Homo sapiens: one gene and its partner. The protein of the gene in region 2 interacts with the protein of the main gene of each other region in a biochemical or structural test. Each region holds a gene or a part of one and is shown on either strand. Other genes may lie near its edges. The genes, in order: DCAF4 and ST7.

What was found.
Region 1: of the proteins of ST7 (region 2) and DCAF4, one has a biochemical effect on the other in vitro, tested with the Homo sapiens proteins (one study listed by BioGRID).

The regions. Positions count from the first base shown.
Region 1 is NC_000014.9:72,936,280-72,943,899, reverse strand, and holds part of DCAF4 (DDB1- and CUL4-associated factor 4), read right to left. Parts: intron 5,951-7,620; exon of another isoform or gene 5,930-5,950; coding exon of another isoform or gene 5,922-5,929; coding exon 5,830-5,921; intron 4,099-5,829; coding exon 3,998-4,098; intron 3,681-3,997; coding exon 3,523-3,680; intron 2,156-3,522; coding exon 2,076-2,155; intron 907-2,075; coding exon 804-906; intron 1-803. UniProt on the Homo sapiens protein: May function as a substrate receptor for CUL4-DDB1 E3 ubiquitin-protein ligase complex.
Region 2 is NC_000007.14:116,948,373-116,956,674, reverse strand, and holds the start of ST7 (suppressor of tumorigenicity 7 protein), read right to left. Parts: upstream 3,175-8,302; 5' UTR 3,135-3,174; coding exon 2,984-3,134; exon of another isoform or gene 2,341-2,983; intron 2,215-2,340; exon of another isoform or gene 1,996-2,214; intron 1,702-1,995; exon of another isoform or gene 1,522-1,701; intron 253-1,521; exon of another isoform or gene 1-252. UniProt on the Homo sapiens protein: May act as a tumor suppressor.

The DNA of each region.
Region 1 (7,620 bases), on a different chromosome or scaffold from region 2:
GGAGGATGCAGTATCAACCTCCAGGGTCAATCTCTAGCATCGGCCTCCAGTCCCACCAGCAGATGACCGAGTCCAGATGCTCCTGCCTCTGTATCCTCCTCTCACTCTCCCTGGCTTTCCCTCAGCCTCCAGGAAGGATAGGGCTTGCCGGGCAGGCCCTGCTCTTACGTGGTCCATCGAAAGGTCAGGGACCTTTGTTTGCAGTGGTCCTTCTAGCTCTCTGCCAACCTTTCCCTGGCCCCTGGGTTTAAGCGGCTGACCTTGGCTTCCAGCTTGGGTCCAACCCAAACCAGAGAAGGCCTTTCACCCCCTGCAAATGATGTAATGGAGGTGTGTTGATGGGAGGTGCCACTGAAGCCAGGGGCGGCAAGCAAGGAGTCCTACCCTCTAGTGACCAAAGGCACACTGGGCTGCAGGTTTAGCCACCAAGTCCTGCCCCAGTTCAGGAAGAAGCAGATGTCCCCAGGTCCACTGTGAGCCTTTTTAATTGCATATACAACACAGCCAAGGAGAAGTTATTGTGTAAAGTTCAGTAGTCAAGGTGTGGCTGGGTCCAGACTCTGACGTTAAACGACGGAGCTGAAGTGGGGGGTGATGATGGTCGCCCCACAGCCTGCCTGCCAGCTCAGCGTCTCCCAGCGGGTAGCCAGCAGGCAGGTTAAAATCGTACAACCAAGAAGATGCCACCTACTTTCATTGCAGTTGGCTTCTCCAGAGCCAGGTTTGATGACTGGCAACGCTAAGCCACAAAGTGTCCAGAGGGTGGCAGCCACACCCTAGGCAGGTGTCCCCCTCCCACTCACCAGTATGAGGTTAAATCGGTCGCTTGCCAAGGCGGAGGGATCCATGCTTCGAATCTGGACCTTTTTCCTCTCCATGCAGCTGAGACGCAGCTCGTGGGCTAAACTGCAGAAACAGAGGGTGGGGGCATGGATGCTGAAGCTGACATCCATGAAGAAGATTCGGGGGTCTCTGGCCTTCCCTGCCCCGCTGACGCCCATCTCTCCTCGTCAGCCTGCTCCACAGTACTTCTCAGCAATGGAGCTGAGCAAGATCCCAGATTATCCGAATTTGAGTTTCCCCACAGAACGCTCAGGAAGATGAAAATGAAGAAGTGGGTGGCCCATTTGCAGAGTCAAAGAGTGGGAGTTAGAGGGAGTTGTGTCTGCATCATTCAGTACAGCTCCTTCCCCTGAGATGACGAAAGTGCGGGAGATGAAACAATGGTCTGGAGGGCACTCCGCTGCTGGGAAGAGCCCCAGGATACGGCTGCCGGGAAGAGCCCCAGGATACGGCCGCCTCTTGTTTCGCAGGGTGAGGAACAGATCTAACTAGATTTTTAACTTTCTGTCTCAGAAGGAGGAAAACAGGAGGGGCCTGCCCTGCCTGATACCTACGGTGTTTCTGGCCTTCCCTGAAGGGGCCCTGCTCCAAGGTCCGAGGGCTGTGCCCCAGGAAGCTGCCTCAAATGCAGGTTCTTCACTTGAGCATGTACAGTGGGGGCAGGAGACGCAGCGCTGGGCGCTCAGGTGTTGGAGTCAGACAGTTCCCCACTTCTAGCTTTACCTTGAGCAAATCACTCCACTCTGAGCCTCAGTCTCTTCTTCAGGAAATGGGGGAAAGTATCGGCCTATTTCACAGGGTTTTAGTTAGAATTGTATCAGCCATCATAAGTACTTTGATAAGGTTTAGTACACACACATCCACTTAATGCCCCATTGTTGGTGACAACTCATTAGAAGGGAAAGAAGGATGCAGAAATGTCATGGGAATGAAGTTGTAGGAGCTTCTACTAGAATGACTTACGAGTAACAGAGAATAGACATCTCTGCCTACGTCCCCATCCTCTCTCCCTATCCTCCTGCAAGAGTCCCCCGCCTTCGCTCTAGAGAGAACAGCTTTCTCAGGGTGGGTTTAAGCAGCAGAAGGCAGGGTGTGAACTGGAGCCCCTCAACTGTGCAGGTGCTTCACGGGGTAGCCACATGGTCTATCCAGACTGGATTCTTATACCATGAAAATAAGAAACAGGAAAAGAACATTCATGAAGAAAACATAACAAAGAGGCATTGTCTTACTGGCAGTAATTGGTGACGTTGAGAAAACCCAGCTGGCTTTTTCGTAGCATGGAAGATGCATTAAATCCCATCCTGGCAATCTATATTTATTACAAAAAAGAGAACAATTCAATGAAGATTTATTTGTTAGGGGATGATGGAGAATGTTTTTAGTTCCATAGGATGTAATGAAGGAAACAGGCACTAAATTGGCAGAAATTATATGCATAAAAATCTGACGGTGTCCTTTCCAAGTCTCCCTTCCTCGGCAAGAGGAAAGGCCCAGCAGAAGAAAGTGTGAGTGGGAAAGTCTGCTCGTCAACTCTGCCCACGCTCCCCATCCACATACACCCGGGGGGACGAAGCCACCAGGTGCGTGAGTGCAGCAATGGGACTGCAAACAGGTCTGCACCACTCTCCATTCCACCCGTGGTGACCCAGGGCTGGAACTTTACATTCCATTGCCTACCTTGACAACAAAATATGTTAGCGTCTAGACCTGTTGGTCTGTATTGCAAACAGACAAGATGGCCTGTATTCCAAACCATGCATCCTGGTCTTCTATTTAAAATAGACAGCTGGGATGGGCATGGTGGCTCACACCTCTAATCCCACACTTTGGGAGGCCAAGGTGGGCGGATTACTTGAGGCCAGGAGTTCGAGACCAGCCTGGCCAACATGGTGAAACTCCATCTCTATAAAAAAAATACAAAAATTAGCTGGGCATGGTGGCAGGTTCCTGTAATCCCAGCTACTTGGGAGGCTGAGGCAGGAGGATCACTTGAACCTGGGAGGCAGAGGTTGCAGTGAGCCGAGATGGCGCCACTGCACTCCAGCCTGGGCAACAGAGTGGGACCCTGTCTCAAAAAAACCCCAAAAAACAGTTACTAAAATTATATCACACTGCCTCCCAAGATTCCTTCAGGAATGACAAAATGTTAGAACTGCTGAAGAAGGCTGGGTGTGGTGGCTCACGCCTGTAATCCCAGCACTTTGGGAGGCTGAGGCAGGCAGATCACTTGAAGTCAGGAGTTCAAGACCAACCTGGCCAACATGGTGAAACCCTGTCTCTACTAAAAATAAAAAAATTAGCTGGGCATGGTGGCACGTGCCTGTAGTCCCAGCTACTCAGGAGGCTGAGGCAGGAGAATTGCTTGAATCTGGGAGGTGGAGGTTGCACTGAGCTGAGATCATGCCACTGTACTCCAGCCTGGGCAACAGAGTGAGATTCCGCCTCAAAAAAAAAAAAAAAAACAACTTATCGAACAAGAAAACGGGGATGGAAGAAGGGGGCTCTTGGCTGTTCTTATTCTTGTCTTCTTCCTGTCAGGGAAAAGCTAGGGCCACACCCCCTGAAGTGCCTCTGCTAAGTGTCGCAGGGGCATCTAATTGGCACCCTTTTCAACAGTGGATGGACAGGTGCTGGCAGGAGCGGAGAGGACAGGGGGCGAAGGGGTGAGGAGCCCACCTTTTTCCGTCTGTCTTCTTCCTGGAGCAGCCGCAGTCTCTTGCTCTCCATCTCCTTCTGCCGGATGCTCTCTTTCGTCAGGGGGTTGCAGTTGTTATGTCCAGGGAGCAAGCGGAAGTAGCGTTTCTTTTCAGGGTCAAAGTAAAACCCAGGTAGCTCTTTAGACAAAAAAATTAAATGCACCAATTTCAACCACTGTGAACTGACCACCTGAGTTGGGCGCCCAGTGGCCTGTCCCCCCACCTCGTGGCTGCCTGTCTTTTCTGAGGGCGGGGATGAGCTGCCTTGTCAGGCAACATCCTGGACTGTGCTCAGTCCTGGGGGAGGCGGTTTGCCTCATGACCACCATTCCTGACGCACCCAGCTCCTTCCCTGAGTGTTTCAATTTGCTCCTGGAATTCCTTCCAAGCCAGGAACGGGTCTCAGCCTTCCCTGTGTGCAAGGGCCAGGATTCCCACCCCGCAAGTGGCCTTACCTGGCACAGAGGAGGTCCCAGCTGTGCCAGACGAGGTTGACGGAGACTCGTCATCACCGTGGCCGGAATCGTGAGCGGGCTGTGCTGCCCGGGAGTCAGACCTGTTGACACACAGCTGTGTTAACTTGCAGCCCAGGACTTGAGTTCCAGCCATTCTGACGGGGGCAGGGAGTCCATTCGGGCAGTTCTGCAGCCTTCACCTCTGATCTCTGACCTTTCTGATTACTTGAGAAGCACTGATCCCCTCTTGCAAATACAACAAAATAGGGCAAGGTTTTGGTTTTTCATTCTTTTTTCTTTCTTTAAAAGAGGACAGATGTCACAGTGATTCCCTCTTCTTATCTTCTCACTCGCGCATTTTGTGAGGTCTTGTGGAATTTTCCAGATTAAAAGGAAAAATAGAAATCTCTGCCAATAAGAATTTTACCAGCTGGGCTCATTTGTCAGCACAACAGCAGTTACAAGGCTAGGTGAATTTCATTCTTTATTGGATTCAGTAGCACAAAGAGTTTAAATTTTACTTGACTACACAATCTTACAGACAGAGAAACTGGGGTTTGGGGGACAGAGGTGATTAGTTCAGTAACACTGGGATAGAGCTGCGGCTAAAACACTTGATTTGTAAATCCACAAGTAGCTTCTGAGGGAATTATAGGCTGAAGGATGTAGTAAAGGTGTGTGCCACCACACCCAGATAATTTTTATATTTTTAGTAGAGACGGAGTTTCGCCGTGTTGGCCAGACTGGTCTCAAACTCCTGACCTCAAGTGATCCGGCTGCCTTGGTCTCCCAAAGTGCTGGGATTACAGGCGTCAGCCACCACACCCGGCCCAGCCAACTTTATTTTAAAAATACATTTAATGTAGCCTTGGCCTGGGTGGTGGTTCAAGTCTGTAATCCCAGCACTTTGGGAGGCTGAGGCAGAAGGATCACTTGAGCTCAGGAGTTTGAGACCAGCCTGAGCAACAGAGTGAGACCTCATCTCTTAAATAAATAAATAAATGTAATGTAGCCTGGTGTACAGGGTTTTAAAGTCTACACTAGCATACAGTAATGTCCTAAGCCTTTGTGTTCACTCATCACTCACTCACTGACTTCCAGTCCCGCAAGCTCTGTTCACAGGAGTGTCATACATAGGTATACCATTTAAAAAAAAATCTTATATACCCTATTTTTACTGTATCTTTTCTATGTTGAGATACACAAATACCACTGTGTACTGACTGCCTCTAGCATTCAGTAGTCACATGCTGTACAGGTTTGCAGCCTCGGAGCAATTGGCTACACCATATAGCTTAGGTGTGTGTGGCTGGCTGTACCATGTAGGTTTGTGTTACGTATGTGCTATGATGTTTGCATGACACGACTGCCTAACAACATATTCCTCAGAATGCATTCCTCCTTGTTAAGCGAAGCATGAGTGTATATCCTTGTCCGAGACTTAGGCTGAATTAATAAAATTTGGTTTCCACAAAGGTATTTGCATAAAAAGTCTACAAAATGGAGAAACGGTTTTCCAGTTGTTTCAGATAACGTCTACCTCTAGCTTTATGGCGAATGCTCTGGCCAGAGGTCGTGGTCACTTAGGAAAGAACAGAGAGTGGTCCTCTCTCCTCACTACTCAGTGAGGTGGGCTGACCCACCAAAGCGACATGCCCTGGGAGCACGTTAGGAAGGCAGGCTCTCCTCAAGACCCCTCAGACCTACAGAATCAGAACCTGCATTGGGACGAGCCCCCAGGTGATCTCCACACCTGTGATCGTGTGACATGCCATGTGTACAATGCCAGAAGCACACTGGGCAAAAGTGGCTCCCCAGAGCGGCACACTTGCCTGTCTTCAGAATCACGGAGTCTGAACCAAGGGTTCTGCTGGTGGCTTCTTCTCCCATGTCGTCTTCTACTCTGCCAGCGACTTTTATTCATTTCTGTTCCTAAAAGAGAAAAACAAAAAAATCCATACATCTCTGTGTGTGGGCATGGGCTTTTCTGTTTGCTTCTTGGCAGCTGCTTCATGCTCAGCACCAGCAAAAGGCTGGCCCACCCTGGGTTATCATCAGATTTGCCACAGCAAGCCTTACCTGGGAAGGGCTGCCTCCAGCACTCCCCCAACATCCTTCCCACTTCCTTCCTGTTACCCTTAGTCGACCACATAGTTTCCTACCCCACAGAAACGTTGCCAGGTCGGCCAGGCGCGGTGGCTCATGCCTGTAATCCCAGCACTTTGGGAGGCCGAGGCAGGCGGATCACGAGGTCAGGAGTTCGAGACCAGCCTGACCAACATGGTGAAACCCCATCTCTACTAAAAATACAAAAATTAGCCGGGAGTTGTAACGTGCACCTGTAATCCCAGCTACTCAGGAGGCTGAGTCAGGAGAATCGCTTGAACCCGGGAGGTGGAGTTTACAGTGAGCTGAGATTGTGCTCACTGTAAACTGCACTCTAGCCTGGGCGACAGAGCAAGACACCATCTCAAAAAAAAAAAAAAAAAAAAGAAAAGAAAAATTGCCAGGCATGAAACCCCTAACTTCACTCCCTTCTGCTCCACAAATACCTGCCTTTACTAATTGTCTTCTTCCTTGTCTTGGACAACAGGTATCACTGCTCCTTTTCAAGGGAGACCCATCCCACCTGGCTGTTGATTTCATTCCTTCCCAGGAACTGCAGACATCTATCTGTTCCCCCATATGTTAATGTCTCCTTCTCCTTATCTCAGCTTTTAAAAACATGCCCAGGTTTTTCATTTGTAAGTGTTCCATTTCTAATCCAAAAAAATGGGCATATTCTGAAAGAATGGTCTACATCTACGAATTCAATGTCTTCATCTCCCGATATTCCTCAACCCACTGCAGTTGAGCTTCCTCTCTCCTCGCCTTTCTACTAAAATGCTCTTGCTATTGATTACCTACTTGCCAAAGTGAGTGGTCTCTTTTTAGCCCTTATTCCTGCAACATGTGGCACCAGGAGGCTACATTCTTCCTTTGGCTTCTGTAATATCTTTCTCTTGGTTTTCTTCTTGCTAAATAAATCCTTTGCTCATTTCTCCTGGGTCACACACCCTGTATGTGCTTTCCATTGTTCTGTCCTAGATCCTTTTCTTTTCAGACTTAACACCACCTCATCTACCAATGCAGATGCAGCTCCAACCCTAATATCGCTACTGAGCACCAAGTTCCTATGCTGCTTCGTGTCTATCTCCACAGACCCAACAGGTTCAAAAGTGAGTTCATGATTTCTCTCTAACCCCCGATCTGCTCTTTTGCCTGTCTATACCTCTCTTCTCTGAAAGCAATATCCCTGCCCCTGCAGCCCAAATGTGTGTGTATTTTTTTTTTTTTTTTGAGATGGAGTCTCGCTCTGTTGCCCAGGCTGGAGTGCAGTGGCGCCATCTCAGCTCACTGCAACCTCTGCCTCTCGGGTTCAAGCGATTCTCCTGCCTCAGCCTCCCGAGTAGCTGGGACTACAGGCACCTGCCACCACACCCAGCTAATTTTTGTATTTTTAGTAGAGATGGGGTTTCACCATGTTGGCCAGGCTGCTCAAGAACTCCTGGCTTCAAGTGATCTACCTGCCTCGTCCTCCCAAAGTGCTGGGATTACAGGCGTGGGCCACCAAGCCCGGCTCC
Region 2 (8,302 bases):
ATTGAGAAGATACCAAGCAGATATCCAAGAATGACTCCAGAACACTTTTAGCAGATTCCATCCCCCTACAGGTACAGAGCTGGGCCTATGGAAGCCCTGGCTCCTGGCTGCCTGATTGTGATGGTGTCTTTGGCTTCCTTGAGGAGGAAGGGAGGCCTGCGCCATCTGCAACTCCCTAAAAGCAGCTCCAGATTCAGTAACCTCTCCAGGAACACACTTGCCTTCATCACAGGAAGAGTAAGCACCACAGGGCTGAAGAACAGCAAAGTTAGTCCCGTTAGAACTCTTTTAGACCTCCCTGCAAGGACAAGTTAGACCAGGCTAGCTCCTGCCTCCCCTCTCAGGGGTGCTGGCTAATGACTTCTTTCTCCCTGGGCCTTCCTTGCCAATAACTTCAGTACAGAAACTTTTTCCCAAAGGGGAGGGGAATTGGCAAGGAAAGGAGGGAATTAAGTTGACAACAACCTTTTGGCAGTTTTCCTACTATAACTTCTCACTGTTACTTAAAAGGGAAGAAAATAGGCCTCTAATGTCTGCAACTGTTTTTTGAAAAACCTAAACTGTTCTAGGGTGGTTTGTGGCTATAATTTCATGTCTCAAAATTAATGCCAAAGTCCTCCTCCCACCCCAGATCCTGCTACCCTCTCATAAAAACAGCAGAGAGGTGAGTGCTCTCTGTGTGCTTCCCCTTTTATCTTTCTTTATGACTGAAATGAGCATGAAACCAAACTGAAAAGTCCAGCATCATCAGGTCTTCTATCATGTGTCTAGCAAGGTACAGCCCGGATGGCACGTTCATCTTCATATTTTCGCTATCTCTTAGAACTGCCCCTACACAAATTAACAAAGGCATCTCTGAGAAATGCTAGATTTAAATTGCTAGAAGACCTAACAATGCCCTTCCTTAAGAAGTACACATTTTCCCAGTAGATATTTTGCTTCTTGCCTGATCTGCACAGAGCACTGGATGTGACACTTACACATATATACATGGGTAATTATTTAACCTGATGAAAATGTGATATACAAATGTATATCATGAAATAAAATTTTAAGTGTGTAATAAGGAGAAACATTAATATTTTAAAAACTAGTGTGTTTGAAAATCCCAAGTGCAAAAGTGTTGAAAGGTGGGACCTGTGAGTGGTAATTAGGTCATGAAGGCTCTGCCTTCAAGAATGAATTAATTTTGTTATTGAGGGAGTAGGTTTGTTATAAAAGTGAAAGTGGGCCCCCTCTTGTTTTCTCATGTTCTCTTACCCTTCCACCTTCCACCAAGGGATGACAGCAAGAAGGACCTCCCCACATGCCAGTCCCTTGATCTCAAGACTTCCCTGACTCCTGAACTACAAGAAATAAAATGTGTTCTTTAAAAATTACCCAATCTGTGGTATTCTGTTACAGCAGCACAAAACAGACTAACACTGTTACCAACAAATACGTAATTCCATTAAAACATATATTCAAACAACTTCTTAAAGGTATAGAACTTTGAGACCAGAAGGTATCCTGGAGACATACTTGTCTAAAGCGAAGAAGACAATATTGCGACAAGCAGCCATCCAAAAAGATGAAAAGCGAGAAAGCCATGGTCTTTCCGATGACAGACTCAAAAGGGCTGAGCAGCACCTATTCAAATGGTGAGACAATTCTAGAGTGCTGAATCCTATCCGCCTCCCAGGGACACGATCCCGAGGGATACTACAAAACAAATGTAAATATGAACATGAGTTCAAGTTAGTAATCAAAATACTTAAGTTAGTATCTGAAAGGTACAAGTTTCCTAACAAAATGAGTACATTATCTCAAGCGTTTTAAAAAGCGTTTTAATGCAGCTAAACACCTGAGGAAAATGCATTTCCAGACTTGCACTCCCAGAGTATGGAGATTAACAAGGGAAGATATATATGTGTACATATGTATATATCTTCAGGACTGTAAGAATTTCCCAGTACTGTGAAATTAAAATTTAAAACAAAAACAAAAACACTCTACCTTGAAATTTCCAGATTTAAAGGACTGTAACCCTTAGCTCGAAATTTACTTTGTGTTTCGGAACTCTCTGGAGTGTTAAGGCTCGTGTGTTTTCTTTGCGGGTGTTTTTTTAACGACTCAGTGGGCTGGCTCCAAGTTTGTGAAGATCCTGTTAATTACCTCCTGCATTTACCACCGACCAAGGATGGGAGGCACGCGGCACTTGCTGAGCATATGTAGCTTTACAGGGAAGGGAGACGAGCAAAGATCACTGAAAACTGCAACCGAAACCCTCAGAAATTCCAGCTCTCCCCTCTTCCCTCCGGTCCCTTCGACAATCCATTTGGTGACCTGACACGTCATCCATACACTCCCAAGAGTGCCTTCGGGAACCCCTCTCCCCACTACCCAACCAGAGAGACAGCCCCACGCCCGGCAAGACGCAACTCCGGGCCACGGAGGGCGCCGCCCGGACAGCCCGGCCGGGTCAGGGGGCTTCGCCGCCGAGCACCCTCCGGCAGCCGCCCTCGGGCCTCCGCGGCCGGGCGGGAGGGCGCCTCCCCGACCACACTTCGGCCGCTTGGCACCCACAGCCGGGAGGGCGTGAGGAAGGACTCGGTCTAACTCCGGGGAACCCTCGGAGTTCCGGCGCAGACACCCGAGGGGGTGTCCTGGGAACTCCTTCGCCCGCGACACCCGTTCTTCTCCGTCTCCCGACCACCAGCGACGCAGCAGGGCGGCTGCCGGCCCGGCCCGGCCCGCCTTGCGGGCTGTGCGCGGCGCAGCTCTTCCTCCGCGGGGCCGTGAAGGCCACCGGCCGCCCCCGCGCGCCCAGCTGCCCGGCCCCGCCGCCTAAGCCGCCGCGTTGCTGGCGGGTAGCCGCGGGCCTCCGGTGCGCGGGCCCCGGCGCGTCCCCGAGCGCGCGCCTGGCCGCGGCCCCGCGCGAGTTGCACTAACTTTCCGGGGCGGGGGAGGGGTGGGCGCCGCGGGCCCGGCTCCCAGGCCTTACCTGTGCTCAAGTTGTCGTTGATTTTCAAAGGCACCCGCAGGATGTAGACCAGGAATAGCACGATGAAGAACCACACGGTCCACAGATACGTCCAAGACCAAACTATGCAGGACTTGAGCTGCTCCAGAAAGCCCGTGGCCGCTTCAGCCATGTTTCAGCGCTCCTCTCTGCTGCCGCGGCTCTTGGTGTCTGCCGGGATGATTCACCGGCCCGGAGGCGCAGCTCGCGCCGCCGCCGCCGCCGCGGCCCGGGCGCCCCCGGAGCCCGCCCGCCGCCGGGGACGCGGGCTCGGCGGGAAATCGCGCGGGCCGCGGGCGCGCCGGCTTTTCCTTCTCCAGCCTTATTGCTAACTCTCTAAAGGTCCCTACAAGTGGCTTTCGTGGAGCGATCACGTGGCCCCTGCCCCCTCGCGTTCTGGGTCCATTTATATTTATTATGCTAATATTTAGAAAGAGAAGGCCAAGTGGCGCGCCGAAGGAAACGCCTCAGGCAGTTACAACCCGCATAAGTTGAGCGTTTACCACACGCCAGGCGCTGCTCCACGATCCGTACAATCTCATTTAACCCCTGCAACAATTCCCCACTACGATCCTCTTTCTATAGGTAGGGAAACTGAGGCTCACAGCAGCTGCGTAGTTTACCTTAAGGTGGAACCAAAATTCAATTGCAGTGGTGTATTCTGGGGTCCGAGGTCTTAAACCCTACTCTGCTCCCTTATCAGGATTCAGGCTCAGGGAATGAATAAACCCGGGACAGCTAGGAGAAGGGAGGAGGTGCGCTCCTGTCGCCGGCTAGTAGGCCTGAAGATAAATCACTCTATTCAGCAAGATTTGGGTGGCAGATGCTATTTACCTTTGTTCTGTCTCTTTGAAGCAGCGCAGGGATTTTCCAGAGAAATCTTGACAGATGAATGTTTATCCTCCAGGTTTTTTGGTGATCAGAGGTCAAACTATTCTCAGCCTGTTTTTAATATAAACAATTCTCTGGGATAATTTTGACTGTGAAACGGCCACCTCTAACAGAAAGTCCATTTTAAACATTGTTTTGTTGTTTTTGTTTTGTTTTGACTGTGCTGAATAAAATGTTTCTTTTATTCTAAAATGTTTTCTCAGCTGAAATTTTCAAGTCTGTTTCTGTCCGTAAGTGATTTGACTTTCTATGTATTAGATGGTAATGAGGAAATTGCAGGTTTTCCAGTCTACATCTATTTTTAAAATTCTGAGCATAAAGAATATTTTATTATAAATTGTTTTGCTTACTTGTATAATAGTTTCCTTCATAATTAAATAAGCTCCTTTAACTTTTCACATATAGGGCCTATTACGGCATACATAATGGATGGAACTACTCTTAAATTTTTACTAATTCCAGCCTCTCTCGGCTACTGTTTCTTCCTCACATTTGATCTACTACAGTGAGATCCAGGCCAGAATAAGTGAAATTGGCACACATAGACTTTCTTTATAGTTATTTATGGCAGCACATGACCAAATGATTTTTGTGTCTAACACTGATACATGGAATCTCAGTAAAATAAAACAATATTGTCACCAGTAAAGGATCGTGACTGCAGGTTGTCCAGGTTCTTGGCGTTTTGAACAAAGAATTGGACAAAACACCCAGAGAAGCGACAAAAGAACGAAAGCAGGGATTTATTGAAAACGAAAGTACACTCTACATTGTGGGAGCGGGCGGAGCAGCGGCTCAAAGGCCGAATACAGAATCTTCTTGGGTCCAAATACCCCCAAGAAGTTTCCCTTTGGCAACTCATGCTCATCTCACGTAAATGAAGTGGTAGCCCGCAATCAGTCTGACTGGTTGCAGAAAGCAGCCAACCAGAGGCTGAAATGAAGATACAAAGGTAACACTCCTGTGCAAACATCTGATTGGTTGCAAAAAACAACCAATCAGAGGCTGGGATGTACTTAATGAAGTTATGCTTCTATGCAAACGAAGACTCGCCCACAGTCTGATTAGTTGTGGACAACAACCATTCAGAGGCTGGAGTGAAGTTACAAAGTTGCAAATGAAGATTGGACCCGCAGTCAGTCTGATTGGTTACAGACAGCCAATTTCCCATCTACTAGGCAGAAAAGGTCAAAGGTAGCCTCTGGTCCTTTTGTTACTTAGGCGTGGAAAGTTAGGGTTTTCCTTTCAATGTAGTTCAAGGAAGTCCTTAGTTTCCCTGCCTCCAGAACCTAGTCTCCTGCCTCAACATGAGTACATGAACCACCTATTTTATGTGATGATTAAATAACCCACCAGATTCTCTGCGAGTCACTGAATTAGGATATTGACTACTTAATTTAAATGAACATCCGGAGGCCTGGCTTTTTGCTGTCAATGAACTTCAATGAATGGACATGAATATGACTCCGCTAAGTCACAATCTTCTAATTTTCTACTAGGCGCTCCTGGGAAGTCAGCCCTATATCATTGCCTCTCCTGGTGTGCATCCTGGCATGTGGTGGGGACTGTACACATGCCTTTGTGCTTCAAAACACTTCAAAACAGAAGTGAGTAAGCATAATCTCTTGCAAACTGTGGCTGCTTCAGTATAGCTGGAGTGCAGCCTCTGCAGAGTGGTGTGGATACAGACAAAGCTAAAGATACAGGCCTGAGTCATTTTGAAGGGCCTACTAGAAACGCTAAGGTGTTCATAGTTATGGGGCATTGCACACACCAATCCAAATGACCAACTCAGAGATTTATTTAAGTGGAGATTTAAGAAATATTAAGGAAGTAGATGGCTCACGCCTGTAATCCCAAAACTTTGGGAGGCCGAGGTGGGAGAATCACTTGAGTCTAGGAGTTTGAGAACAGCACAGGCAACACAAGGAGACCTTGTCTGTACAAAAAGATTTTAAAAATTAGCTGGGTGTGGTGGTGTGTGCCTGTACTACCAGCTACTCAGGAGGCTGAGGTTGGAGGATCACTGGAGCCTGAGAGTTTGAGGCTTTAGTGAGCTGTTATTGTGCCAGTCACTCCAGGGTGAGACCTTGTCGAAAGAAAGAGAGAAAGAGAGAGGAAGGAAGGGAGGGAGGGAGGAGGGAGGAGGGAGGAAGGAAGGAAGGAAGGAAGGAAGGAAGGAAGGAAGGAAGGAAAAGGGGAAGGGAAGGGGAGCGAGAGAAAGGAAAGATAGAGAAAGAAAAGAAAGGAAGAAAGAAGAAAGAAGGAAGGAGAGAGAGAAAGAAGAAAAAGAAAGGAAAGAAGGAGGAAGAGAAAAAGGGGAAGGGGAGAGAAAGGAAGGGGAAAGAAAGAAAGAAAGGGAGAGAAAGAAAGAAGAAAGAGAAAAGGAAGGAAGAAAGAAAGAAAGAGGGAGAGGGGGAAGGGAAGGAGGGAGGGAGGCGGGGAGAAGGGGAAGAAGGGAAGAAAGAGGCAGAGAGAGAAAAATAAAGGGAAGGAAGGAGTGAAGGAAGGAGAGAAGGAAGGGAGGAAGGAAGGGAGGGGAGGCAGAAGTGACAGGCCTTGGTGACTGATAAGACAGGCAGGGCAGGCCTGGCGCAGTGACTCACGCCTGTAATCCCAGCACTCCTTGGGAGGCTGAGGCAGGCAGATCACTTGAGGTCAGGAGTTTGAGACCAGCCTGGCCAATATGGTGAAACCCTGTCTCTACTAAAAATACAAAAATCAGCCGGGCATGGTGGCACGCACCTGTAGTCCCAGCTACTCGGGAGGCTGGGGTAGGAGAACTGCTTGAACCTAGGAGGTGGAGGTTGCAGTGAGCCGATATTGCACCATTGCACTCCAGCCTGGGTGTAGCAGTGAGATTCTGCCTCACACACACACACAAAAAAAAACAGGCAGAGCACGGATAAGGGGGGGGCTCTTGAGTGGGACCGTTAATGAAATAATGACACCCCAGATATGCCTAACTACCTCTTGATAATCACCCAGTGGAATGGCACACAATCACCAAGCTCATCACATGCAGAATGGAATGCATTACCTCTTCACCCTCATCTGTTCCTTTTAGAGTTCCATCAAGGAATGGGCACCATCCTTCCAGTTCCCTAATTCAGAAATCTGAGCATCATGTACCTCCTTTCCTCTCTATATTCCACTGTACATCAAGACTCAGGCCGCCACTTCTCTCAGCCTTTGGTGATAGCCTGATCATCATTCATAGAGAACAAGGCAGTGGGCTCCCTGCCTCTATTTGCACCACGGCAAGCACCACCACTGCCTCCTTCCATCCACTTTCCACACTTCTCTACCAGTTACCTTTTAAAGCACAAATCCGATAACTCGTTCCTTGCATAAAATTATTTAAGGCCCCACCCCTACTGCACTCCTACTTTTATCCCAGTGTCTAACTAAAGGATGGAATCTAGATGGTATTCAGGCCTTCTGCAAGGGCACTTCTGCCTACCTTAATAGCACCAGCATTTTGGCAAACATGCTATTCTCTTTCACACTTTTGGACCTGCTCCACACAACCTGCCTGTAATACACTTCTCTGTGCTCCACTTCCCTGACCAACATTCTTTCCTGCGTCAACTGCCTGATAACGGGTTATTTAGAGAACCACTTGAAATACCACCTCCTTGGTAACACCAGCTCCCTCCACCCCCTGAGCTCACGGTCTCTTCCCTGTGAGATGCAGCACCAGGAAGGTCATTAACAACCAGGTTTAGAGTAAACAGTGCTGGGCTGTATTTCTGATCCTGCCTTTCCCTAACTGGGTGCTCTTTGGCAAGTTATTAAGTTACTTCATCTGTACAATGGGTTACACTTATGCCTTTTACATATGGTTGTTGTGAAGATTGAGTGATATGCATACCAAAAATGCTGAGCAGAACACCTTGTCCATATCTTTCCTCTCTGTTATTAAATGGAGGCCTTTAAGGTTAAGTAATTTGTTATTGTTGTGGTTAATTTTAGTCCTCTGAATTTTAATCTAGTACAAATTGTGCTGCATTTGGCACATGGTACATGTTCATGAATATTGAGTGTTGTATAAAGGAATGAAAAATCAATTACATGAAAAGAAATTCCAAATCTTACATTTTACAAACACAGACACAAAGAATACTAAGATTTAACTCAGGGGCAAAAGTTAAGATTTGGCCACCAGCACGTGGTGAGCTTCCTTGAAAGTTTGTTTCTGGCCGGGCACGGTGGCTCACACCTGTAATCCCAGCACTTTGGGAGGCCGGGGCAGGCGGATCATGAAGTCAAGAGATTGAGACTATCCTGGCTAACACGGTGAAACCCCATCTCTACTAGAAATACAAAAAGTTAGCCTGGTGTGGTGGCACGCGCCTGTAGTCCCAGCTACTCAGGAGGCTGAAGCAGGAGAATTGCTTGAACCTGAGA